Linked DNA regions of Homo sapiens. The protein of the gene in region 6 purifies or fractionates together with the protein of the main gene of each other region. This does not show direct contact. Each region holds a gene or a part of one and is shown on either strand. Other genes may lie near its edges. The genes, in order: POTEF, TAMM41, LMBRD2, NLRX1, RNASEL, LPAR4 and CAND2.

The links.
Region 1: the proteins of LPAR4 (region 6) and POTEF purify together in Homo sapiens (affinity purification with mass spectrometry; 2 studies listed by BioGRID and IntAct, with this or other methods). This does not show direct contact.
Region 2: the proteins of LPAR4 (region 6) and TAMM41 purify together in Homo sapiens (affinity purification with mass spectrometry; 2 studies listed by BioGRID and IntAct, with this or other methods). This does not show direct contact.
Region 3: the proteins of LPAR4 (region 6) and LMBRD2 purify together in Homo sapiens (affinity purification with mass spectrometry; 2 studies listed by BioGRID and IntAct, with this or other methods). This does not show direct contact.
Region 4: the proteins of LPAR4 (region 6) and NLRX1 purify together in Homo sapiens (affinity purification with mass spectrometry; 2 studies listed by BioGRID and IntAct, with this or other methods). This does not show direct contact.
Region 5: the proteins of LPAR4 (region 6) and RNASEL purify together in Homo sapiens (affinity purification with mass spectrometry; 2 studies listed by BioGRID and IntAct, with this or other methods). This does not show direct contact.
Region 7: the proteins of LPAR4 (region 6) and CAND2 purify together in Homo sapiens (affinity purification with mass spectrometry; 2 studies listed by BioGRID and IntAct, with this or other methods). This does not show direct contact.

Annotation. Positions count from the first base shown.
Region 1 is NC_000002.12:130,119,223-130,122,722, forward strand, and holds part of POTEF (POTE ankyrin domain family member F), read right to left. Parts: intron 2,077-3,500; exon of another isoform or gene 1,387-2,076; 5' UTR 1,294-1,386; coding exon 773-1,293; intron 1-772.
Region 2 is NC_000003.12:11,808,886-11,812,385, reverse strand, and holds part of TAMM41 (phosphatidate cytidylyltransferase, mitochondrial isoform a precursor), read left to right. Parts: intron 1-1,488; coding exon of another isoform or gene 1,489-1,610; intron 1,611-2,703; coding exon 2,704-2,869; exon of another isoform or gene 2,870-3,500. UniProt on the Homo sapiens protein: Catalyzes the conversion of phosphatidic acid (PA) to CDP-diacylglycerol (CDP-DAG), an essential intermediate in the synthesis of phosphatidylglycerol, cardiolipin and phosphatidylinositol.
Region 3 is NC_000005.10:36,117,388-36,120,887, reverse strand, and holds part of LMBRD2 (G-protein coupled receptor-associated protein LMBRD2), read left to right. Parts: intron 1-2,971; coding exon 2,972-3,153; intron 3,154-3,500. UniProt on the Homo sapiens protein: Recruited to ligand-activated beta-2 adrenergic receptor/ADRB2, it negatively regulates the adrenergic receptor signaling pathway. May also regulate other G-protein coupled receptors including type-1 angiotensin II receptor/AGTR1.
Region 4 is NC_000011.10:119,171,725-119,175,224, forward strand, and holds part of NLRX1 (NLR family member X1 isoform 1 precursor), read left to right. Parts: intron 1-631; coding exon 632-701; intron 702-1,176; coding exon 1,177-1,265; intron 1,266-1,754; coding exon 1,755-2,374; intron 2,375-2,728; coding exon 2,729-3,500.
Region 5 is NC_000001.11:182,576,196-182,579,256, reverse strand, and holds part of RNASEL (2-5A-dependent ribonuclease), read left to right. Parts: intron 1-2,867; coding exon 2,868-3,001; intron 3,002-3,061.
Region 6 is NC_000023.11:78,750,720-78,754,219, forward strand, and holds part of LPAR4 (lysophosphatidic acid receptor 4), read left to right. Parts: exon of another isoform or gene 1-10; 5' UTR 11-73; intron 74-490; 5' UTR 491-592; intron 593-3,500. UniProt on the Homo sapiens protein: Receptor for lysophosphatidic acid (LPA), a mediator of diverse cellular activities. Transduces a signal by increasing the intracellular calcium ions and by stimulating adenylyl cyclase activity.
Region 7 is NC_000003.12:12,799,680-12,803,179, forward strand, and holds part of CAND2 (cullin-associated NEDD8-dissociated protein 2), read left to right. Parts: intron 1-3,500.

The DNA.
Region 1 (3,500 bases), on a different chromosome or scaffold from region 6:
GCACTATCTCGGCTCACTGCAAGCTCCACCTCCCGGGTTCACGCCATTCTCCTGCCTCAGCCTCCTGAGTAGCCGGGACTACAGGCGTCTACCACCGCACCCGGCTAATTTTTTTTATATTTTTTAGTAGAGACAGGGTTTCACCGTGTTAGCCAGGATGGTCTCAATCTCCTGACCTCATGATCCGCCCGCCTCCCAAAGTGCTGGGATTACAGGCGTGAGCCACCGCGCCCAGCCAAAAAGCTCACATCTTAAGAAAATTCAATCTTCCTGTTCAAGCACAGGAACCATCTTCCCATTTCAGTTTCCTTCTAAGGTTCCTCAGTAAAGAACATATTTACATACTGTACATTGATATAAAATCCATACTGGATTTTATTTGAAGAATATTTAGCCCTGAAGTTGATGTGTTATGGGGCTTCGTTCTTAGTTCTCAATATACACTTTTCTATAATGTATAGAACATTGTTTTAAAATCTGTAGATTAAAAATAATCTGCTGCATTGACTTAATTAATTTTGCAAGTTAAATCACTTTAAAACAGTCTATTAGTGTTCTATGAGGGAAATTATGATTGGAAATCAGCTAAAGTTTTGTTTTTGTGTTGCTGTTCATAAAGGGCCCTGTACCCTGACCTCTCTGAGGTTTCCACATCCAGGGTGGTGTGAGGCCTGCGGAGGCGAGAAAGCCAGGTCCCCCTCCTCCCCCGCCAGGAGGGTATGTCCCCATCATCCCCCCACGTCCCACCTCCTCCCAGCCCAGGCCTGGTTACCTCTTTTGCTTGTCCTGCTTGTTCACGTCAGTGTCCCTGAGCATGACGATGAGATCCTTTCTGGGGACTTTACCCCACCAGGCAGCTCTGTGGAGCTTGTCCAGATCTTCTCCACGGACGTGGTACCTGGGCTCCATGAAGGCACTGTCATCGTAGTCTCCCCAAGCGCCCACCTTGCTCTTGCTGCTCCCCCTGCAGCAGGGGAAGCAGTGGCAGCACCACTTGCCCATCTTGTTCCTGAGTGTCTTCATAGCAGAGTCGTCGTGGTCTCCAGAAGCGCCCACGTTGCTCTTGCCACTCCCCCTGCAGCAGGGGAAGCAGTGGCGGCACCACTTGCCCATCTTGCTCCTGAGTGTCTTCATAGCAGAGTCGTCGTGGTCTCCAGAAGTGCCCACGTTGCTCTTGCCGCTCTCCCTGCAGCAGGGGAAGCAACGGCAGCACCACTTGCCCATCTTGCTCCTGAGACCAAATGGCTTCTTCACAGAAGAGGCAGCCGGCATGGAATCAACCTCAACCACCATCTGCTTTTAACAGCCAGGAGAAGCCAGTAGTAGCCAACAGATCGCGTCTACCAACCAGTTTCACCAACTAGCAGGTAACTCCGGGTTTCCAATCTGTTTGAAGAGAAAAGTCAATCCCAGCCAAAACCTGCCAACCCCAGCAGGGGATTCCAGCCCAGCCCACCCCACCCAGGGAAAACCCACACCCACCCGAGGAAAGCCCACGCCCCCCCTGGGCGACCCCACGCCCACCCCAGAAAGGGCCAACCCCCGCCCCCAAGAAAACACCCAGCCCACCCAAGGGAATGCCAAACCCAGCAGAGAAAAGGTCAAGCCCAGCAAAGGAACACGAGAGAGAAAACGTCAATCCAAGCAGGAAACGTCAATCCAAGCTACCAACGCCAAGCCAAGCCAAGAACGCAAAGCCAAGCCAAGCCGCTACAGGCCAGCCAAGCCGTTAAAGCGCGTGCAGCATGCGCGTGCAAGCCATTACAGGCCAGCCAAGCCGTTACGCGCGTGCGGCGTGCGCGTGCAAGCCGTTACAGGCCGGCCAAACCGTTATGCGCGTGCGGCGTGCGCGTGCAAGCCGTTACAAGCCAGCCAAGCTGCTGCCGGGCGTGTGCGCGCGGCGTGCGCGTGCGCGTGCGGCGTGCTTATCTCAGGTGGCGTCAGGGCACGTGGCACAGACACTGGCCGATGCATGCAACGCGCCTGCTTAAGTCTTGGCGCCACGAATGTCACTGACAGCCTTGAGTTCCGGCAAACTTCGTGGGAGTCAGCTGAGCTTTCAAGCCACTGAGAAGCCTCTGGTGAAAAAAAAAAAGCCTCTTAAAGGAGGACTGGGGCTAAGCGTCTGGAACTTGAGGATGCTGACAGCCTCCTTTGAAAAAAGCCCCCAGGACACTCCTGGCGGTGCTGTTGTGCATGGCAGCAGCTGCAGCTGGGAGCTCGGGCTGACGGAGCTGGCTGCAAATGGCCTCAAAATCGCGGAGCACAAGACGCCCACCGAGCCCAGGGCCTGCCTGAGGTGCCTTCAACACCTGCTCCTCTTTGCTCCGCACCCAGAACACGAGGCCATCAGCAAGGGGGCATTTGGGGCCACAGGATTGCAGCCAGCTCCTGCCCCGGTGCAGTGTATACAGTGTATACTGCACAGGTGTTGGGTGCACCAAAATCTCCTGAATCACCTCTAAAGAACTTACTCATATAATCAAACACCACCTTTTCCCCAAAACCCTAGGAAATAAAATGAAGAACTTTTTGTTTATGCATACCACATATTTTTTAACTTTTTTCACAGGTTCATTGAGATACAATTTATATATTATTTAATTCACTCATTTAAAGTATAAAATTCAGTTTTTTAAGTGTATTAACTAGTTAAACAATCACCATGATTTTAGAACATTTTTATGCTCCTTAAAAGAAACTTTGCACCCATTAGCAATCTTTCCCTATTTTCCCCATTCTTCCTTTAAACCTCTCCCAGCCCTAGGCAATCATCCATCTATTACCTAAGAATTTGCCTATTCTGGAAGGATTTGCCTATTCTGGACATTTCATGTAAGTGGAATCATAATAATATAGTTACGTGTGACTTACTACTTTCATTTATCATGTTTTCAATGTTCATCCTTTTTGGAGCATGTATTAATATGTTTTTCTTTTTCATTGCCAAGTAATATTTTATTTTATGGACAGACCACATTTTATTAATCCACTCCAAAATTCATGGACATTTCTGTTGTTTCCTACTTTTTGTTGCTATAAATACTTTTATGTGTAAGGCATTTGTTTTAATTTATTTTTGGTGTATACATAGGAGTGAATTTACTGAGTCATGTGGTAATTCTGTATTTAACCTTTGAAGAACGGCTTCATTTTTCTGCATGTGGCTTGCCAATTATACCAGCAGCATATGTTGAATAGGGTGTCCTTTCCCATTTTCTTGTTTGCTTTGTCAAAGATTAGGTAGTCTGATGCCTCCAGGTTTGTTCTTTTTGCTAAAGATTGCTTTCGTTTTTCAGCATCTTTTGTGGTTCCATTCAGATTTTAGGACTAATTTTTCTATTTCTGTGAAGAATGACATTGGAATTTGACAGCGGTTGCATTTAATCTGTAGAATGCTTTGAGTAGCATTGAAATTTTGACAATATTAATTTTTTCAATTGATATAGGACTTTTTCTATTTGTCACTTTCAATTTCTTTCATCAATGTGCTATAATTT
Region 2 (3,500 bases), on a different chromosome or scaffold from region 6:
TCCTCGCAGGACAGTGTCTTCAGGCTGTGCCACTGCTCTGAGTTGACACATAAAATTATCTGCCTTACCCTTGCATCTTTTAGGTCTACAGGTGGTGCTCATCTCTGCCATTCGTCCTGGGATATGGTTTTATTTTTTCTTTACTCTTTTGGCCAGGGGGAGAGAATGGCAGCTTCATGCCTTTAATCCCAGCACTTTGGGAGGCTGAGGTGGGTGGATCAGTTGAGGCCAGGAGTTCAAAACTAGCCTGGCCAACATGGTGAAACCCCATCTCTACTAAAAATACAAAAATTAGCCAGGCATGGTGGTGTGCGCCTGTAATCCCAGCTACTCGGGAGGCTGAGGCATGAGAATCACTTGAGCCTAGGAGATGGAGGTTGCAGCGAGCTGAGATCGCGCCACTGCACTCCAGCCTGGGCAACAGAGCGAGACTCTGTCTCAAAAATAATAATAACAAAATATTAGCTTTATTGATGAATACCTCATACACCATAAAAGCTAGTGTTTATAGTATAGTCACAGAGCTGCACAGCCATCACCACAATGTAATTTTAGAATATTTCTGTCACTCCATACCCTTTAGCCGTCCCCAGCTCTCCCCTCACCCAGGCAACCACTAATCCACTTCTGTCTCTGTAATTTTTCTGTTCTGGACAGTTCATATGCATGGAATCATATAAAGTTTTTTCCATATCTGCTTTTTTCTTAAGTTGACATATAATAATTGTATCCATGTCCGCTTTTAAAATGCAATTTGACTTTCACAGTTTAGCTGAATGCTTTCACTTTCGTTATTTTAATGAGAGTTAGTGTAAGGAAAATGAGAATTTACCAAATTTTTAAATCATGTCACCTGGTATTTTATCTTTACACTCATGCTTTCAAGTGAAAATTCCAGTGCATTATTTTCCTCAAGAGAAAGCAGTGGCAGATAAGTACTTTCTAATTTTTTTATATGTCACTCAAGCCGTTGGAAGCTTCATAGGTAAAGCATAACTTAAATATAAGTTTATTCTAACTAATCCCAATATGTGGCCTCAAAACATAAGTCCATAAATGTCATTTCTAAGATTATTTTACATAAATACTCAAATTTGTTGTCATTTTTGTAGCCAAAGCTAAGTAGAGGATGGGGCCTGTGAATTTAGAACCATCCTAGTGATAAATATCAAATATTTAGATAAAAACCTAAATATTTACCCCTCTAGCTTTATGGAGCCATTAAATAATAACATTTTTCTCCTTCTCTTCATAGAGTTTATAGACAAAACTAGAAAATTCAGGTATTTGGTATATACTTTTTTGTTTTTTTTGATACCATCTTGGTCTTGTCACCCAGGCTGTAGTGCAGTGGCACAATCACCACTCATCGTAGCCTCAACTTCCCAGGCTCAAGTGATCCTCCCACCTCAGCCTCCCAAGTAGACAGAACTGTAGGCTTGCACCACCATGTCTGGCTTTTTTTTGTTTTCTTTTTTTTTTTCGTAGAGCCGGATATCTCACTCTTTTGCTAGGGCTGATGTTGAATTTTTGTGCTCAAGCAATTCTCCTGCCTCAGCCTCCCAAACTGTTGGGATTACAGGTGTGAACCTGTGCTCCTGGCCCATTTGGTATGTACTTAATAAATATTTATTCAATTTAAAAAATGGTAGAATGAGTGGATTCTAATTATTAAGAAAGTTCGTCCTATCTGTAAACTCTAAGCCTAAAATGTAATACATTGATCTGATTTTTTCTTACTCTTCTCTTAGTTGAAGTTAAAACCTAAATATTTGTTAAAAGGATACAAGACAGATTCTTCCTTGGGAAATAATGTGATGGGCTGTTGAGGGCAGTGTTACTGGTTCTGCACTTGGCAGGAAATCAATGTTTACAAGATTTTTAAAAATTCATTCCACGAGGCACAGTGTATGAAACTTGGAGTTAGGAAAGCTAGGTCTGGCCTCAGCTCTGTGGCTAACTTTTGATTCAAGGGTTTCTGAGTAAAGTCTGACACATAGTTTTACATGTTTTATTTATATATTTATCTTCAGCACCTTAGTATGTTTTAGAATACTTTGGGAACCGAAGCCGCTGGCATAGTAGCTTTAGGACAACTAAGTTGTATTGATTCAGTTACTCATTTCCTTATTGTTTTTTGAGTACCTACTGTGTGCTGGGGATTAAAAGTAAGTAAGATTAGTTTCTGTCATCAGTGTATTCCTACAGTTTGTGAAATACAGCATACTAAAAGGCCCTACAGGCAGGAGACACAATTCAGATCCCACTTACTCTCATTGGTGATGTGATCAGGGCACGCCAGTCTCCCTGTGTTTGAAATGGGAGGGGTCATCTCAGTGCCTGGATTTGACGCGGCCTCCACGAGTGTCAACTGCAGCACCACTTCCTTTGACTGCTGGATTTAAGACAAATATAAATTTTAAAACCAAAAGTCAGAAATTGATCCTTGAGAGTGGCTTCTATTCTTTTCTCAGGTAGAAATGGAATATTATAGGACAAGAATTGTCCTTTTTGAAGGGACTTAGACTCCTGAACACTTACCCATTCAGTTTCAGAAAAAGAGAGTTTCCTTAGCTTGCTGCCTCGCCAGGGGTGTGGGTGCATATATGTTTGTGTGATTTTTAAAGAGAAGCCCTGAGTTTTGGAGTATTTGTAGGATTTAAAGCACTTCCATAGACGTCGTCTTTTTTTTCCTCCCTTCAGATAGATAAAAGCCCAGAAGGACAGTTCACTCAGCTGATGACATTGCCCAAAACCTTACAGCAACAGATAAATCATATTATGGACCCTCCTGGAAAAAACAGAGATGTGGAAGAAACTTTATTCCAAGTGGCTCATGATCCCGACTGTGGAGATGTGGTGCGACTAGGTACGTTTATGAATTTGATGTTGAGGAAATGCCAGCCATGGGGAAAAGCAGACTTTGTTTGTGATTGGAATGTATTATTTCTTCCTTTTTGTTTAGCGAGATAGAGAGATTGCCTCTCAGAAGAAGAAAGCACTAAAAATTTGAGGGTTTTCTAAATCTGCATTTTTATTTGTTTGAAGTAAGATGGTGAAAATACTTCTGTTTTTAAATTCCTGGATCCTAAATCACTGTCAAAGGGAGAAACAATGTTTCTTTTGGTTCCTAGAGCACAACTTCTAGAATTTATTTAAAAGATGTGTCTGTGTTTTGTGGTGGTCTGAGAAAAGAGATTGGTGGCATTTTTTTGTGCTTTTATAACATCGAGAACACAGCTTTCCTCAATCAACTCCATTTGATGTGTCTCATACATTGTTGAGTACATTCCCTCAGACATGGCCCACGTTCCACAGCATTTTCCCCAGCACTGCCCTGATGTTTATCCAAAACTCTGAACCCAGGCCAGGTGCAGTGGCTCACGCCTGTACTCCCAACACTTTAGGAAGTCCAGGAGGGAGAATCACTTGAGGCCAGGAGTTTGAGACCAGCTTGGGCAACAGAGCAAGACCCTGTCTCTGCAAAAATTACAAAAGTA
Region 3 (3,500 bases), on a different chromosome or scaffold from region 6:
GGGCCAGTGAGATAGGAAAATTAGGACAATGAAGTGTTTTGAGGAAAAGAGTATATAAAGTACCTTTTCAAATGTTGCACATAGATTAAGGATCATATATATTAAGACCTGACCATTGGATTTTAGAGAAGTGAGGGGAGAGGATAAAAAAGTCTGACTGTAATTTAAAAGAAATAAGAAGAGGAGCAATTGGAGACAGACTAGAAAACTCTAAAAATGTTTTCCTTATAAAAGGGAACAGAGAAAAGGGGTAGTAGCTGAAAGAGGATTGGGGGCATAGTCAAGAGAAATTATCACATGTAATTAGTAAATGATATAATAGAATTTGAGGCCAGGCGCGGTGGCTCACACCTGTAATCCCAGCACTTTGGGAGGCCGAGGCGGGCAGATCACAAGGTCAAGAGATTGAGACCATCCTGGCCAACATGGTGAAACCCCGTCTCTACTAAAAATACAAAAATTAGCTGGGCGTGGTGGTGCGTGCCTGTAGTCCCAGCTACTCGGGAGGCTGAGGCAGGAGAATCACTTGAACAGGAGGCGGAGGTTGCAGTGAGCCGAGATTGTGCCACTGCACTCCAGCCTACCTGTAGTCCCAGCTACTCGGGAGGCTGAGGCAGGAGAATCACTTGAACCCAGGAGGTGGAGGTTGCAGTGAGCCGAGATTGCGCCACTGCACTCCAGCCTACCTGTAGTCCCAGCTACTTGGGAGACTGAGGCAGGAGAATCGCTTGAACCCGGGAGGCAGAGGTTGCAGTGAGCCAAGATTGCACCACTACACTCCAGCCTGGGGACAGAATGAGACTCCGTCAAAAAAAAAAAAGAAATAAAGAGAGAGAGAGATGAAAGAAAAGAAAGACAAAAAGAAAGAAAGAGAGAAAGAAAGAAAGAGAAAGAAAAGAAAAAATTCATAGAATTTGATAAGACAATAGAGAATTTCTAAGACAATGTTCATGACTAGTAGAGATGAGATGGTGGGAAATAGTGAACAATGAAGAGAATGGTGGAGGTAAGGCACAGATGTAACTAGCTGAGAAGGTGTAGTGTTAGAAACTTGGGAAAATTCTCTGATCGCTTCTGTTTTCTCAATGAAATGTGGAGAGTAAGTATAGGAGAGGAGATTTTAGAGATTTGAGGAGGGAAGAGAAGGTGCAAAATAGTTGCCTAGGAGAGTGGCATGGGAGAAGATTGGGGAATTATAGTAGGCTAGTGAGGCAGTACTGAGGACCCACTTGAAGCTAGTGATTAAGAATTTAAAGTGAGGCCAGTCAACAAGGTGGGGTGTCTTTCTCCTGCAATGTGCAGCTGTGTGGATGCAGGCTGAGAGTAGCCAGCGAGTTGGATTTAAACAGGTGTGATTTAGCTTAGCAGGTACAGTGGAGCAAAATGGGGCAAAGTAAGTGGGATACTGTCCTCAAAGACTGGAATCTGAGCTGCATGAGGAAGGAAGGGTATCAAAGTGTTAAATAACGGTAAAATGTGATAGAATAAATTGATTTTTCATCCAGGTATGGTCAGTTAGTGGAGTTGAAATACTGTACTAGATGAAGGTATTGTTTGAAGACAAGGATGCTGGAATGTGATTATATGGAAGGGCTGGAGATATTGATAATAAAAGGTTTAGGCATCACTATAGCAACAAGTAATTGAGGTAGGGTGGAGGGAAAGTTCATTAGAGGAGAGGAGGTCAAAGAAATGAGAGATAAGGGTATTGAAAGGGGAATCATTTATGTGGATATTGAAATCACTAGGAATTATGAGAGGAAAGTTGTAAAGAATTACAGTGAACCAGAAGCTAACTATTCAGTAAATGAACTAAAAATATAGCTTTTTAATTTATTGAGCTTTCTTTTTTAAATTTTTATTTATACCTAAATTCAGACTTAAAACCAAAATAGTGCTGGGAGTGGTGCCTCACACCTGTAACCCCAACACTTTGTGAGGCCGAGGTGGGTGGATCATGGGGTCAGGAGATTGAGACCATCCTGGCTAACACGGTGAAACCCTGTCTCTACTAAAAATACAAAAAATTAGCTGGGCATGGTGGCACGTGTCTAATAAAAATACAGAAAATTAGATGGGAGTGGTGGCACACGCCTGTAATTCCAGTTACTTGGGAGGCTGAGGCAGGAGAATCACTTAAACCCCGGAGGCAGAGGTTGCAGTGAGCCGAGATCATGCCACTGCACTCCAGCCTGGGCGACAGAGCGAGACTCCATCTCAAAAAAAAAAAAACAAAAAACCAAAACAGTACAAAATATTCCCATATACCCTTCAACCAGGCTCTCCAATGTTAATATTTTGCCATATTGATTTGCTTTTTCTGTATGTATTTTTTTATTACTATTTTAGAGTTGTATCCAGACATGATGCCTCCTTGTTCCTAAATGTTTCCGTGTATATTTTCTAAAAATAAAGATATTTTCTTACATAGCCAAATACAGCCATCAAAATAAAAAAATTAATATTTATACTCTACCATTATTTACAGACCTTATTCAGATTTTGCTATAATTATCCCAATAATATTTTTTGTAAAAAATCCCAGATCATGCATCGCATTCAGTTGTTGTGTCTCCTTAGTTTCCTCTAATCTGACACAGTTTCTCAGTCTTTGTGTTTTATGATATATCAGAAATGTTTTGGGGAGTATAGGCCAGTTTTTTGTTGAATGTCCCTGAATTTGACTTTGATGTTTCTTTAAAATTAGACGCAAGTTCTGCATTTTTCACAGGACTACCACAGCAGCAATGTCACATTCCTATCAGTACATCATAGCAGGAGGCACATGATGTCAGTTTGTCCCATCATGGGTGTCATTTGGTTAGGTTCGTATCTGCCTGGATTCTCCACTGTAAAATTGCTGTTTTTCTCTTTGTAATTAAGTATCTTATTAGGAGCTATTTTGAAACAATGTAAATATCCCATTACTCTTTTGTAGTTTTCCTAATCATTTTTTTCTTTTGTCTTCTAGAATGGTACTGGGAATGTCTTTTGCGACCATGGTTTTACAAGATACTTGCTGTGGTTCTGTCCATCTTCTCTGTGATTGTTGTGTGGTCAGAGTGCACATTCTTTAGCACTACTCCTGTCTTATCCCTCTTTGCGGTCTTCATACAGCTGGCAGAAAAAACATATAATTATATTTATATCGAGGTCAGTTTATTTTATGTCTGTCATAAATAGATGTCACTTCATAGTATAATCCTTAACTATTTTCTCCATGTATTTCTTCTAGTAAAAATGAAAGCAGTGAGGTTTTCTGCAGTGTTGTTATTCAAACTTCCAGAAATGTGCTTCATTATTTTACCCACACTATAGAAATTAATAACTGTATTTGAGGAGAGATGAAAAGTTGCAAGATAGTGCAGAAATCTGAGATTTTTTTTTTCTTTCTGTTTTTTTTGGAGGCAGAATCTTGCTCTGTCACCCAGGCTGGAGTGTGGTGGCATGAACATGGCTCACTGCAGCCTCAACTTCCCGGGCTCAAGAAATCCTCTCAC
Region 4 (3,500 bases), on a different chromosome or scaffold from region 6:
GGCGGATCACAAGATCAGGAGTTTGAGACCAGCCTGGCAACATGGTGAAACCCTGTCTCTATTAAAACTACAAAAAAAAAAATTAACCAGGTGTAGTGGTGCACACCTGTAATCCCAGCTAGTTGGGAGGCTGAGGCAGGAGAATCATTTGAACCGGGAGGCAGAAGTTGCAGTGAGCTGAGATCGCACCATTGCACTCCAGCCTGGACAATAGAGTAAGACTCTGTCTCAAAAAAAAAAAAAGAGAGTTGGACTAGATCATCTTCGAGAGTCTCTTGTAGCTACATAAGTCTAGGAACTTGTCTGATTTTACTTTACATACAACAGAGATTTACTGAGTGCCTGCCGTACCGCAGACCTGGTGTTAAGTTCTAAGTAAATAATTGTGAACAAAAACAGACGTAAAGGGGACAAAAAAATTTTAAAACACCCAAATGTGATCCCTCTCATGGAGGAGAGAGGAATGAATGTTAATCGAATAATCACACAATGAAATATAAAATTGCAAAATAACTGCTGCAAAGGGGCAGTACATGCTGCTATGAGAGCAAATACTGGGGGGTTTGATGTAGACATGGGTTCTGTGTATTGCATGGGATCTGCAGATGCTATTTCTTCCTTCTCTCTGTAGATGATCGTATCCCCTTCCTGATCCACTGGAGTTGGCCCCTTCAAGGGGAGCGTCCCTTTGGGCCCCCTAGGTGAGGCCTGGGTGTCATACCTTAGGACTAGTCTGGGCACAACAGAGCAGACTGGGAAGGGTCAGGACTTGGGGCTAGCTTGATCTCTTGGGGACCTTGGGGAGGGGCTTGGTCCTTTGGGGGTGGGAGGACAGTGGCAGCTCCAAGGCCTGAGAGGAAGTTGGCTTAGATCATCTGTGGTAGAAGGCATAGTAGTCAGTGGAGGGAGGACCCTGTGGGAAGTGGGTGGAGCCTCACATGGCCAGCCTGAGTTCCAGGCGGGCAGTCAGCAGTGGGGTCTGGAGGGCTAGGGCTAAGGCCTCAGCACCTGGGAAGGGTGTGAGAGTCAGACAAGCCTCTAAACTTGGGGGTCCAGTGTGGGGCCTTTATCTCAGGAAACCAGAAGTCTAGCAGTGCAGATAGGCTTGGACCCAGAGCCTGTGAAGGGGCTGATCCAAGTTACAAGTCCCAGCTCATCCCCTCTCCTTGTTCCCAGGGCCTTTATACGCCACCACGGAAGCTCGGTAGATAGCGCTCCCCCACCCGGGAGGCATGGACGGCTGTTCCCCAGCGCCTCTGCAACTGGTAAAGGGACTGGCTGGGACCCTGGTCAGGGGGTGTGGTGGGCAGACGGGGCTGGAAGGAGAAGCAGGGTGAGGGAGGCATAGAGGATCCACTGCCATCTTCCATCGGTGGTCCCTCCTCCTCTCTCTCTCTCCCTCCCATCCGTCTATGTATCCCTTCCTGCAATACTCTTGCAATGCACACTTATATGTACAAAGCGCTAGGAGAGCCATACCATCCCTATGCTCAACAAAGTTGGGTCAAGCAGGTTAAGACGGCACATAGGTCACTGTGAAACCAGTTTGTCCAGTGGCTTCCCACTTTCTGACATAGGGGTTCCAGACTTTCTGGACAGTCTATATTTTCTCAGGGAGTCTTGTGTGCCCACCATTGTGGGCCCCAGCATCTATGCCGTGATGTCCCAGCCTGACCTCACCACCGCCCTGATTGGCCCTAAGCTACATCTCCAGGCCCCTTTCCCTGACACATTTCCCTTATCTTCCCACTCAGAAGCTATACAGCGGCACCGCCGGAACCTGGCTGAGTGGTTCAGCCGGCTGCCCAGGGAGGAGCGCCAGTTTGGCCCAACCTTTGCCCTAGACACGGTCCACGTTGACCCTGTGATCCGCGAGAGTACCCCTGATGAGCTACTTCGCCCACCCGCGGAGCTGGCCCTGGAGCATCAGCCACCCCAGGCCGGGCTCCCCCCACTGGCCTTGTCTCAGCTCTTTAACCCGGATGCCTGTGGGCGCCGGGTGCAGACAGTGGTGCTGTATGGGACAGTGGGCACAGGCAAGAGCACGCTGGTGCGCAAGATGGTTCTGGACTGGTGTTATGGGCGGCTGCCGGCCTTCGAGCTGCTCATCCCCTTCTCCTGTGAGGACCTGTCATCCCTGGGCCCTGCCCCAGCCTCCCTGTGCCAACTTGTGGCCCAGCGCTACACGCCCCTGAAGGAGGTTCTGCCCCTGATGGCTGCTGCTGGGTCCCACCTCCTCTTTGTGCTCCATGGCTTAGAGCATCTCAACCTCGACTTCCGGCTGGCAGGCACGGGACTTTGTAGTGACCCGGAGGAACCGCAGGAACCAGCTGCTATCATCGTCAACCTGCTGCGCAAATACATGCTGCCTCAGGTGGGTGGCCCTTTACCCCAGGTTATCACTGCTGCCCGTTGACTCGCCCCCTAGGTCCTGGGTTACTTTAACTCCTGGTCCCTTCACTTCCCAGTGGTGCGACCCTGAGCAAGTCAGTAACTTCCCCAGCCTTCTGTTCCTTTCTTTTTGAGTTGCTCTGATCAAATGGGGTACTGCATATAATATTAGCACAGCGGCCTGGATCACAGCAGGTGTTCAGTAATTGCTAGTTATAACTGTTATCCTCATCAATGTCTTCATCCTTGGACACTCCGTCTTCAGGGGTCCCCTGGGAATAGAAGCAGTCAACAGGACACTAAGGTCTTTCTTAACTCTCAACCATGCTCTTCCCAGGCCAGCATTCTGGTGACCACTCGGCCCTCTGCCATTGGCCGTATCCCCAGCAAGTACGTGGGCCGCTATGGTGAGATCTGCGGTTTCTCTGATACCAACCTGCAGAAGCTCTACTTCCAGCTCCGCCTCAACCAGCCGTACTGCGGGTATGCCGTTGGCGGTTCAGGTGTCTCTGCCACACCAGCTCAGCGTGACCACCTGGTGCAGATGCTCTCCCGGAACCTGGAGGGGCACCACCAGATAGCCGCTGCCTGCTTCCTGCCGTCCTATTGCTGGCTCGTTTGTGCCACCTTGCACTTCCTGCATGCCCCCACGCCTGCTGGGCAGACCCTTACAAGCATCTATACCAGCTTCCTGCGCCTCAACTTCAGCGGGGAAACCCTGGACAGCACTGACCCCTCCAATTTGTCCCTGATGGCCTATGCAGCCCGAACCATGGGCAAGTTGGCCTATGAGGGGGTGTCCTCCCGCAAGACCTACTTCTCTGAAGAGGATGTCTGTGGCTGCCTGGAGGCTGGCATCAGGACGGAGGAGGAGTTTCAGCTGCTGCACATCTTCCGTCGGGATGCCCTGAGGTTTTTCCTGGCCCCATGTGTGGAGCCAGGGCGTGCAGGCACCTTCGTGTTCACCGTGCCCGCCATGCAGGAATACCTGGCTGCCCTCTACATTGTGCTGGGTTTGCGCAAGACGACCCTGCAAAAGGTGGGCAAGGAAGTGGCTGAGCTCGTGGGCCGTGTTGGGGAGGACGTCAGCCTGGTACTGGGCATCATGG
Region 5 (3,061 bases), on a different chromosome or scaffold from region 6:
AGGCAAGGAGAAGCAAGTAACCTTGTTTAAAATATAAATTTTAGAGGGTACTAGTATAGTTTTGTTACATGGATATATTGTGTAGTGGTAAAGTTGGGCTTTTAGTGTAACCATTACCTGAATAACGCACATTGTACCCATTAAGTAATTTCTCATCCCTCTCCCTCCAACCCTCCCACCTTTCCAAGTCTCCAATTATATTATTCCACTCTGTACATCCATGTGTACACATTATTGAGCTCCCACTTATAAGAGAGAACATGTGATATTTGACTTTCTGTTTGTAAGTCATTTCACTTAAAATAATGGCCTCCAGTTCCGTCCATGTGGCCACAAAAGACATGATTTCATTCTTCTTTTTTATGGCTGAAATGGCCCAGACACATTTTCTTTATCCAATCATCTGTTGATGGACACTTAGGTGGATTCCATATCTTTGCTATTGTGAATAGTGCTGTAGTAAACATATGAGTGCCGGTATCTTTTTGATATAAGATTTCTTGGGCTGAGTGCAGTGGCTCACACCTGTAATCCCAGCACTTTGGGAGGCCGAGATGGGTGGATCATTTGAGGTCAGGAGTTTAAGACCAGCCTGGCCAACATGGCAAAACCCTGTCTCTACTAAAAATACAAAACTTAGCCAAGCATTGTGGCACACGTCTGTAATCCCAGCTACTTGGGCGGCTGAGGCATGAGAATTGCTTCAGCCTGTGAAGCAGAGGTTACAGCTTTATTTTGGCAGATACTCAGTACATTCTTTTCTCTGCATCCTCATCAACATCTGTTACTTTTTGACTTTTTAATAGTAGCCCCTAGTATAAGATGATATCTCATTGGTTTTAATTTGCATTTCTCTGATGATTAGTGATGTTAAGCATTTTTTCATATGCTTTTTGGCAATTTGTACGTCTTCTTTTGAGAAATGTCTATTCTTGTCATTTGCCCACTTTTTAATGGTGTTATTATTTTTTATTGTTAAGTTGTTTGAGTTCCTTGTAAATTCTGGATATCAATCCTCTGTTGGATGCATAGTTTGCAAATATTTTTTTTCCCATGCTGCAGGTTGTTTGTTCACTCTGTTTATTTCTTTTGCTGCGCAGAAGTTTTTAGTTTAATTAAACCCCATCTGTTTCTTTATTTTCATTGCTTGTGCTTTTGGGGTCTTAGTCATGAATTCTTTGCCTAGACCAATGTCCAGAAGAGTTTTTCCTAGGTTTTCTTTTAGTATTTTTATAGTTTCAGGTCTTACATTTAAGTCTTTAATCCATCTTGAGTTGATTTTTGTATACACTGAGAGAGAGAGGTCTAGTTTTAATCTTCTACATATGGCAGTCTAATTTTCCCAGCACCACTTACTGAATAGGGTGTCTTTTTCCCAGTGTATGTTTTTGCCGACTTTGTCTAAGATCAGTTGGTTGTAGATATGTGGCTTTATTTGTGGCTTCTGTATTCTGTTCCATTGATCTATGTGTCTATTTTTATACCAGTACTGTGCTGTTTTGGTTATCTTAGCCTTGCACAATAATTGGAGGTATATCATAATGTGATGCCTCCAACTTTGTTTTTTTTTCCTTAAGATGCCTGTGGCTATTTGGGCTCTTTTTTGGTTTCATGTGAATTTTAGGATTTTTTCTCTAATTCTGTGAAAAATGATGTTGGTATTTTGATAGGGATTGCATTGAATCTGTAGATTGCTTTGGGCGGGGTGATCACTTTAACAATATTAGTTATTCCTTTTGGAAATATACCTAAAAAAACAAAAACAAACAAACAAAACCGTTCACTTTGGCCATGGTTGCCAGGCCCAGTTTCAGTCTGAATAGCCCTTTTAAAGAAAGACATGTAATCAAGTACGAATTTGAAAGGGTGGCCACAGGATAAAAATATTGTATAGTATAATGAACGACTTTCCTAGTATAGTAGTCAAAGATTTTTTAACCATATTTTAATATATTTAATTTCTTATGAAAACAATTTACTTGGAAAATACAGACACACATTTGAACATACTTATAATCTCACATCCAGACACAATTATATATATAGTTTTAATTTTAAAATTTTTTTAATTTTTTTGCCAGGTGTGGCGGCTCACACCTGTAATCCCAGCACTTTGGGGGCCAAGGTGGGTGGATCACGAGGTCAGGAGTTTGAGACCAGCCTGGCCAACATGGTGAAACCCTGTCTCTACTAAAAATACAAAAAAAAAAAAATTAGCTGGGCATAGTGGCGGGTGCCTGTAATCCCAGCTACTCGGGAGGCTGAGGCAGGAGAATCGCTTGAACCCGGGAGGCGGAGGTTGCAGTGAGCCAAGATCGCACCACTGTACTCCAGCCCTGGTGACAGAGTGAGACTCCGTCTTGAAAAAAAAAAAATTATTTTTTTGAGATGGAGTCTTGCTCTGTTACTGAGACCGGAGTGCAGTGGTGCGATCTCAGCTCTCTGCAACCTCCACCTCCCAGGTTCAAGTGACTCTCCTGCCTCAGTCTCCCAAGTAGCTGGGATTACAGGCAGCGCCACCACGCCTGGCTAATTTTTTAGCAGAAACTTTTAGTAGAAACGAGGTTTCACTGTGTTGGCCAGGCTGGTCTCAATCTCCTGACCTCAGGTGATCCGCCCATTTCGGCCTCTGAAAGTGCTGGGACTACAGATGTGAGCCACCCCACCCAGCCCAGACACAATTATAGTTAGCATTTTGGTATACAGCATTTACTTCCATTTTTAAATTATTTTGCTTTATTAATTAGTTGGTAATTATAGAATATATGAATATATTCAAATTTATATTTTGCCTTTTGGTATGAATATTTCATCAGGATTTATTTTGTGTTGCTACCACATTTTTGTGTTATTTTTTGTTTTTTTAGATTAATGAATGTGTTATGAAAAAAATGAATAAGTTTTATGAAAAAAGAGGCAATTTCTACCAGAACACTGTGGGTGATCTGCTAAAGTTCATCCGGAATTTGGGAGAACACATTGATGAAGAAAAGCATAAAAAGTAAGTATTGTTTTCATTCCTACAAATTATATGTGAAATGAGAACAATTTAAAAAATCCA
Region 6 (3,500 bases):
CCTTATTAAGGACCCTGCCCAATGGTAACAGTTGTTGCCAAGAAAAGAAAAAAAGAAAAAAAAAAGACCCAATGTAAGTTCATGCCAAAACAAAATTCTCCTTTGTTTTGGTATTTTTAATGTAATGCATTACCTTATGGAAGTGGAGGAAATATTTTTATGTCTTTTGTCACTCATTATCTTTAAATTATTATAGGTTACCACATATGGATTTTATGCACTAGTGTTTAGTCAATACTACTAAAAAAATATAGCACAGCAGTGACAGGTTGGAAAATACATTGTTATCTGCAATTCTGTAATAATGAAATCCAATGCATGTAAATACCATTTTAAAATTTATTGGGTCTCATTTACTCTGGTTTATATCATATAATACTTTTTCTGTCTTATGATCTTCTATAAGATCATTTTATTGAAAATATACATTTTATTGAAAAGCTATCAGCTCTCTTTATGGCACACTATTATGACTATTTCTATTTCACAGCACCCATTGGAGGAAATCTCTAACTACAGTGCCTCCAGGAAACTCATTGGTTATTCCAGTCTTAGATAAAATTGGTGCCAGGATTTGGTTCGAACTAATGTGGTGAGTCCTACCCTCCTGAAAATTACTGAAATAATAATAATAACCTGAAAATGTGTAGAGAAACTGCAAATTCCTAATTTAATTCTCCAACTTTTGTTGTAACAAATAGTTCCAACTTTTTAAAGATTGTATCATCCGAAGATCTAGAATGGATGGAGGAATTGTAATTTGTTATAATCCAGGCAATTTTGATGAAGATGAATATTGATTCTTTAGCTCAACCCCTCTCTGCCACTGGGATTTACCTTTAGATATGGGAGACTCTTTTTATTGCTATTATCAGTTTCAGTGTCTAAGTATATCACATGAATTGGTGTCCAAATTGATAACTGATTTACCTGTTCAAATATATGGAATAATGTCAAAATCCTGGCTGGTATATATGACCCTTACAGAAATTGGAAATGAGTTATTTTGGGAACACCCAAAAATTGTCCCCAAAGATCTGGGGCTTCTGCTGAGATGAGATATTGAGTCTCAAGACTCAAGACAATTTTATAATATTAGGTTGAGCAATTTACCTGTAGTTTTCTTACTCTGTAACTAAGTACTAGGGAAAATTCTACTTTAGTAGGGCTGATGCAATCTTTGGCCCCATCATGTTGAGCACCAGACCACATTATTTCCCAAAGATTGGACTGTGTTATCAAGTGAAGTGTTAATAAGAGACTGAAGTATTTTTTTTCTTTTTTGATGAAAAGAAAAAAAAATATCAAGTTAATCACTGAGAACAGGATTTTATCAAATTGAGGCCCATATCAGTTTCCTGTTTTCCTCAAATAAAATGGAGAGACAAAGCAGCCTTAATAATCTTAGTGAAAACCAGATTAGGTGTAGATAAGCCACTTTTAAAAGGCTATTTCTTGCATCAAAAATAAAAGAGGTTGATTTAGATCAATTTCCTAGCTCCATTCTTGAGTGAAACATTTATCTATGGTTCCCTCCATATGGAATGCCATAAAGCTAGGTTTTGTTTCAAAAACTATTATGAAGCATCAACCAATGTATAGGAACACTGATATAAAACCTGTATGAGTGTGACCTATGCCTGTGACTTGACCTAGAGTCTTATCTGTTAGAAACCACTAATTTGAGAAGCAACAGTCTGAACATATTCCCTATCGCTCCAGCAGGATTGTTTTGAGCTGTATTTTTCACAACATTTGTGTATTTTTAAATCTGCTTCACTGCTAAGTATCTATACATAAGAACACAATAGATTTCATCTTCCTCTGAAAACTATTGTGTCAACTTTCATAAACTTTGACCAGAGTAGAACAAGGAAATGCTCTGGGGATCAGAAGCACTCTGACCTGGCCTGCGCTTATTAAAAATGGAGCAAAGCAAAAATAATTTTAGTATACTCTGCCTTCAAGGCCTTGTCTTCCTGAGCTCTGGACTGTCCTCTGTAGGGAGCAAAAGCAAGTCAGCTTTTCTAGGGTACCGGGCATATTTATGCCAGAAGTTGGAGCTTTGTTTTCAATGTATGATCTGAAAGTTTAGCACTTCATGAAGTGAAGTGATTTGGTTATTTATCCTTATAGGGCCAAAAGGCTAACTTTACTTCTTCCAGGAGCCTTAAGGACCCCAAATATGGTATACCTGTATTTTACTATCATTAGAAATTTTTTAAAAAAGAGGAAACAATTGTGGCCACTCTGAATTAGCTCCAGGTGTAGATTGAAGTTAAAAGTTGAGGGTCAGATTTATTTTTGGTCAACCTCCACGGGACCTGCTTCCTGTCCATTGTCAATAAAAATGCAGCTACCCAACACTCTCTGACACCCTTAGGTGATTAATTGTCAGAATAATTGGGAGCAGAGGTTTGCAGAAGACAGTAGTTTAATGCTCCTTGCAGTGGAAAATGTAATTAACTGCATCAGCATATATTTTTCCTTCTTCATTTCATCTGAAGCTCAAGTGTTGGTCCTTTGCCTCTATTTAGTGCACAATATGTTGGCTATTTAGGAAGATCTAATAGTTAGAAATGCTGTTTCTTTTAGTCAAAAGAAAGGAAGCCAGTAAGAAAAGAGGCTAATATTGATTCTTCTTCAGAATCATCTCAAGAGCCAAATGTCTTTCTGGTTTTTTAATCATACCTGTATGGGAAATATTACCTTGAGGGCACACTCCTGGATTGTCCTGTTTGAGTAAATTGTGTAGTTAAGGCTGAAACTCAAGGGGAGCTTTCTGAGGCACAAGGTATACATGACACTAGAAGGATGTGTTCCTAATGTGAACTTCAGTATACCAAAAAAGACAGAAATATAAAGTTACAGTTGTTTCAGGAAGGGAGGAAGAAACAAACTTACATAATGTTTCTCTGTAGTTAGGTAGGGCCGAATACTAGCAAGCTCATAAAGCAATTCACAAGCCCTATTGAATCTTCCTAGCTTTAGCTGTGAGGCTTAGAGGTAAAGTTTATACAAGGAAGAGAGAGAGTATAGCCAAGTTACAGAGTGAACCAGTGTCTGAGTCAGAAATAGAACTCCTTGCTTCTAATGCTGTGTTAAGTCCCAGCGCCACACCCTCACTTCTAGACGGCAAAGGTGGTTGTGTGTTCAAGCAATGGGAGCTATGAATAGGGCCACAGTGGCAGTTTTCCCATGCCCTCTCTTCAGGATTGAGAATGTAATGTTTTCTTGTCTGTCCTTTCTCTCCCACAAAGTTTGATTACTCAGAGCAGCAGAGCAGAAGTGCCAGGCATTTGCAGGCTGCTTGCTGTGGGTGTAATATATATGTTCCTGGAAACATAAAACTGAAGTGAGGGGATGGATGTGTTAATTAGCTTGACATAATCACCTCATGTAGTATACATATATTAAAACATCGCCTCGTACTTACATAAATGTAGTTCAATTATGATTTGTCAGTTAAACATAATGCAAATAAAAAATAAAATGATTGA
Region 7 (3,500 bases), on a different chromosome or scaffold from region 6:
GATAAACCTGATGAGCCTCTGCCCTCAGTGAGTGTACAGTCCAATGGAGAAGATGCTCTGGTGGCCAGACTTGTATTGCAGTGTGAGAAGTGCTATAAAGGAGGGGTGCAGAGTGCTCTGAAAGGATCTTGTCCAGGGAACCATTGTGCTTAGGGGCTGTGGATGCAGGGGTAGGGCAGGGAGGTCAGTCATCCTTGAGCTGGGACATTTGAGCTGGGCTCTTGATGGGTGAATAGGAGGAGCTCAACAGATGAAGAAGAAGAGCGGGGATAGAAGGCCTATCTTGGGCAAAGAGGCACATCGCCTGGGTTGCCAGGCTGAGCTGGGCCCCCATGGACTGCAGCAGAAACACAACTTGGAGACCCTGGGTGCCATCTCAGAATGTCCCCTCAGCTGAGCAGACGTAGGGGTGCATGTGCTCACCTCAGGCCTTGGCCTGGCTCAAATCCAAACCTCCTCCTTCACTTTACCTTTGCCCAGAGGTGGGCACAGTCAGTCCTGCCATCCTGCCCATGCTGCCAGCCCAGCCTCCTTCTCTCTCCTAGCAACTTGTGGCTAATCTACCTGTTAAAAATAAATAGGTCATCGACCAGTCCACCCCTGGTAACAGGGCACTGTGGGCTGCAGTGACATCTAGGAGCAGGTCTGAGTCTGCACAGATGAGAGCCAGAATCCCAACTGTGATAGATTTTGCCACAGGAGGCGGGGGTCAGGGCTCTTGGTTGATTTGCTCAACCATGCTGGAAAGCAGGGCCAGCGTGGGGTGGTAGAGTGGCCCAGCAGGGTCAGTAAAAGCTGGAGGCTTTCTCCGAGGCAGCCTTACAGTATCTCCTCGCTGCTCTGTCCTGTTTTCTCCTGAGACTCCGCTCTCACATGCCTGCAGGAGCCAGTCAGTGGGTGAAGTGGGCCTAGTGGGGACCAGGTGAACTGGGGAGAGGGCAGCCACAACCTGATTCTAATCAGGTATTGTCACCAGGGATTGTAGGCCCCGTTGTACTCAAATATTCTGTTTTCAAGATAATCTGGAAGTCAGTGTTTTGTTTTTGTTTTTGTTTTTGTTTTTTTTTGAGTCTCACTCTGTCACCCAGGCTGGAGTGCTGTGGCACGATCTTGGCTCACTGCAACCTCTGCCTCCTGGGTTCAAGTGATTCTCCTGCCTCAGCCTCCCAAGTAGCTGGGACTACAGGTGTGCACCACCATACCTGGCTAATTTTCGTATTTTTAGTAGAGATGGGGTTTCCCCCTGTTGGCCAGGCTGGTCTCTAATTTCTGACCTTAAGTGATCTGGCGACCTTGGCCTCCCAAAGTGCTGGGATTGCAGGCGTGAGCTGCTGCGCCCAGCCTGGAAATCAGTATTTTTTTTTTTTTTTTTTTTTGAGATGGATACTCGCACTGTTACCCAGGCTGGAGTGCAGTGGCACGATCTCAGCTCACTGCAACCTTTGCCTCCCGGGTTCAAGTGATTCACCTGCCTCAGCCTTCCCAGTAGCTAGGATTACAGGTGTCTGCCACCGCGCTCGGCTAATTTTTGTATTTTTAATAGAGACAGGGTTTCACCATATTGGCCAGGCTGATCTAGAACTTTTGACCTCAGGTGATCCACCCGCCTCAGCCTCCTAAAGTGCTGGGATTACAGGCGTGAGCCGCCATGCCAGGCCAAAGTCAGTATTTTTGTGTCAACTTTCCCAATGTTCAAATGTTGACAAGTAATTTAAATTTTTGAAAACATGTTTGCAAGCTGGACACAGCTGAGGGCTACTAGTTTCAGACCTCTGCTCCTACCCTCTTAATTTTGGCGGGAATGGTGCCCAATTCCCGCACCATTCCTCGACTTGGAAAGTTGGCCCCAGCCTCAACTTTCCGTGGCTTCCAGCTTAGACTCCCACTGCAGTTTCAAATGCCTGGGACAGCATCAGGCTTTTGGTGTCAGGCCCCATGAATCCCTCACCTCCGGGTGGGTAGCCCTTGCCTCTGGTGCCCACCCTAGGTCAGTGAGCCAGTCAGCTATTGGCGCTGGTCTCCAAAATATGCCCATGCCCATCAGCATGGCGTGGGGCAGTGGTTTTCAAAGTGTGGTCCCTGACCCTCAGTGTCCTCCAGGAATTTGTTAGAAATGTGGATTCCTGGGCCCCAACTCAGACCTGCTGATTCAGAAACTCTGGGAATGGGGACTAGTATTATTTAACAAGCGCTGCTGGTGATTCTGATGCTGGCTATAGCTGGAGATCCACTGCTCTAAGGGCAGGGACTGAGCCGGTTCTCTGAGATGGGAGTGGACAGGGCTCGCCCTCCTCCATCTGTTTGGCAGACAGGCCTCTAGCTCTGACTTGGACACAAGGTGTCTGTTCAACCTTCTGGTATCCCTTGGCTGGGCGCGGTGGCTCACGCCTGTAATCCTAGCATTTTGGGAGGCCGAGGTGGGCGGATCACGAGGTCAGGAGATCAAGACCATCCTGGCTAACACAGTGAAACCCCACCTCTACTAAAAATACAAAAAATTAGCCGGGCGTGGTGGCCGGCACCTGTAGTCCCAGCTACTCGGGAGGCTGAGGCAGGAGAATGGTGTGAACCCAGGAGATGGAGCTTGCAGTGAGCTGAGATCGTGCCACTGCACTCCAGCCTGGGCAACAGAGCAAGACTCCATCTCAAAAAACAAAACAAAACAAAACAACCTTCTGGCATCACTTTCTCAGCTGTTGTGAGATGTGGATGATGTCCTGTGCCATTATAATAATGGCAGTGCCATTTACTGAGCACACACCATGTGCACTTAAAACACCATGAGGCAGGTACTAGTCTCATCCCTGTTTTCAGACAGGTAAACTAAGGCTTGGAGAGGTGAAATGACTTGCCCAAGTTCACACTCATAAATGGCTGAGGCGGGGGCCACCGATCCTGAAACATTATGCATTTAGCCAGCATGCTGAGCCGTTGCTAGTCTGCCACTATGTGGCAGTTGGTGTCACACATATGTGGGTCTCCTTGTAGCCCAACCATGCCCACTGCCCAAATAATCCACCATCATGTGGCACTTAACGACGGGGAAACATTCTGAGAAGTGCATCCTTAGGCGATTTTGTCCTTGTGTGAACCTCATAGAGTGTGCCTACACAACCTAGATGGTAGAGCCTACTACACTCCCAGGCTATATGGTGTGGCCTGTTGCTCCTAGGCTACAAACCTGTATTGAGTACTGTAGGCAGTTGTAACAGAGTGGTATTTGTGTGTCTAAACATAGAAAAGGTACAGTAAAAATAAGGTAGAAAAGATTAAAATGGCATGCCTGTATAGGGCAGCTCCATTAAAATCTTTTTTTTTTTTTTTTTTGGAGACGGAGTCTCTCTCTGTCGCCCAGGCTGGAGTACAGTGGCATGATCTTGGCTCACTGCAAGCTCCGCCTCCCGGGTTCACGCCATTCTCCTGCTTCAGCCTCCCAAGTAGCTGGGACTACAGGCGCCCGCCACCACACCTGGCTAATTTTTTGTATTTTGTTTAGTAGA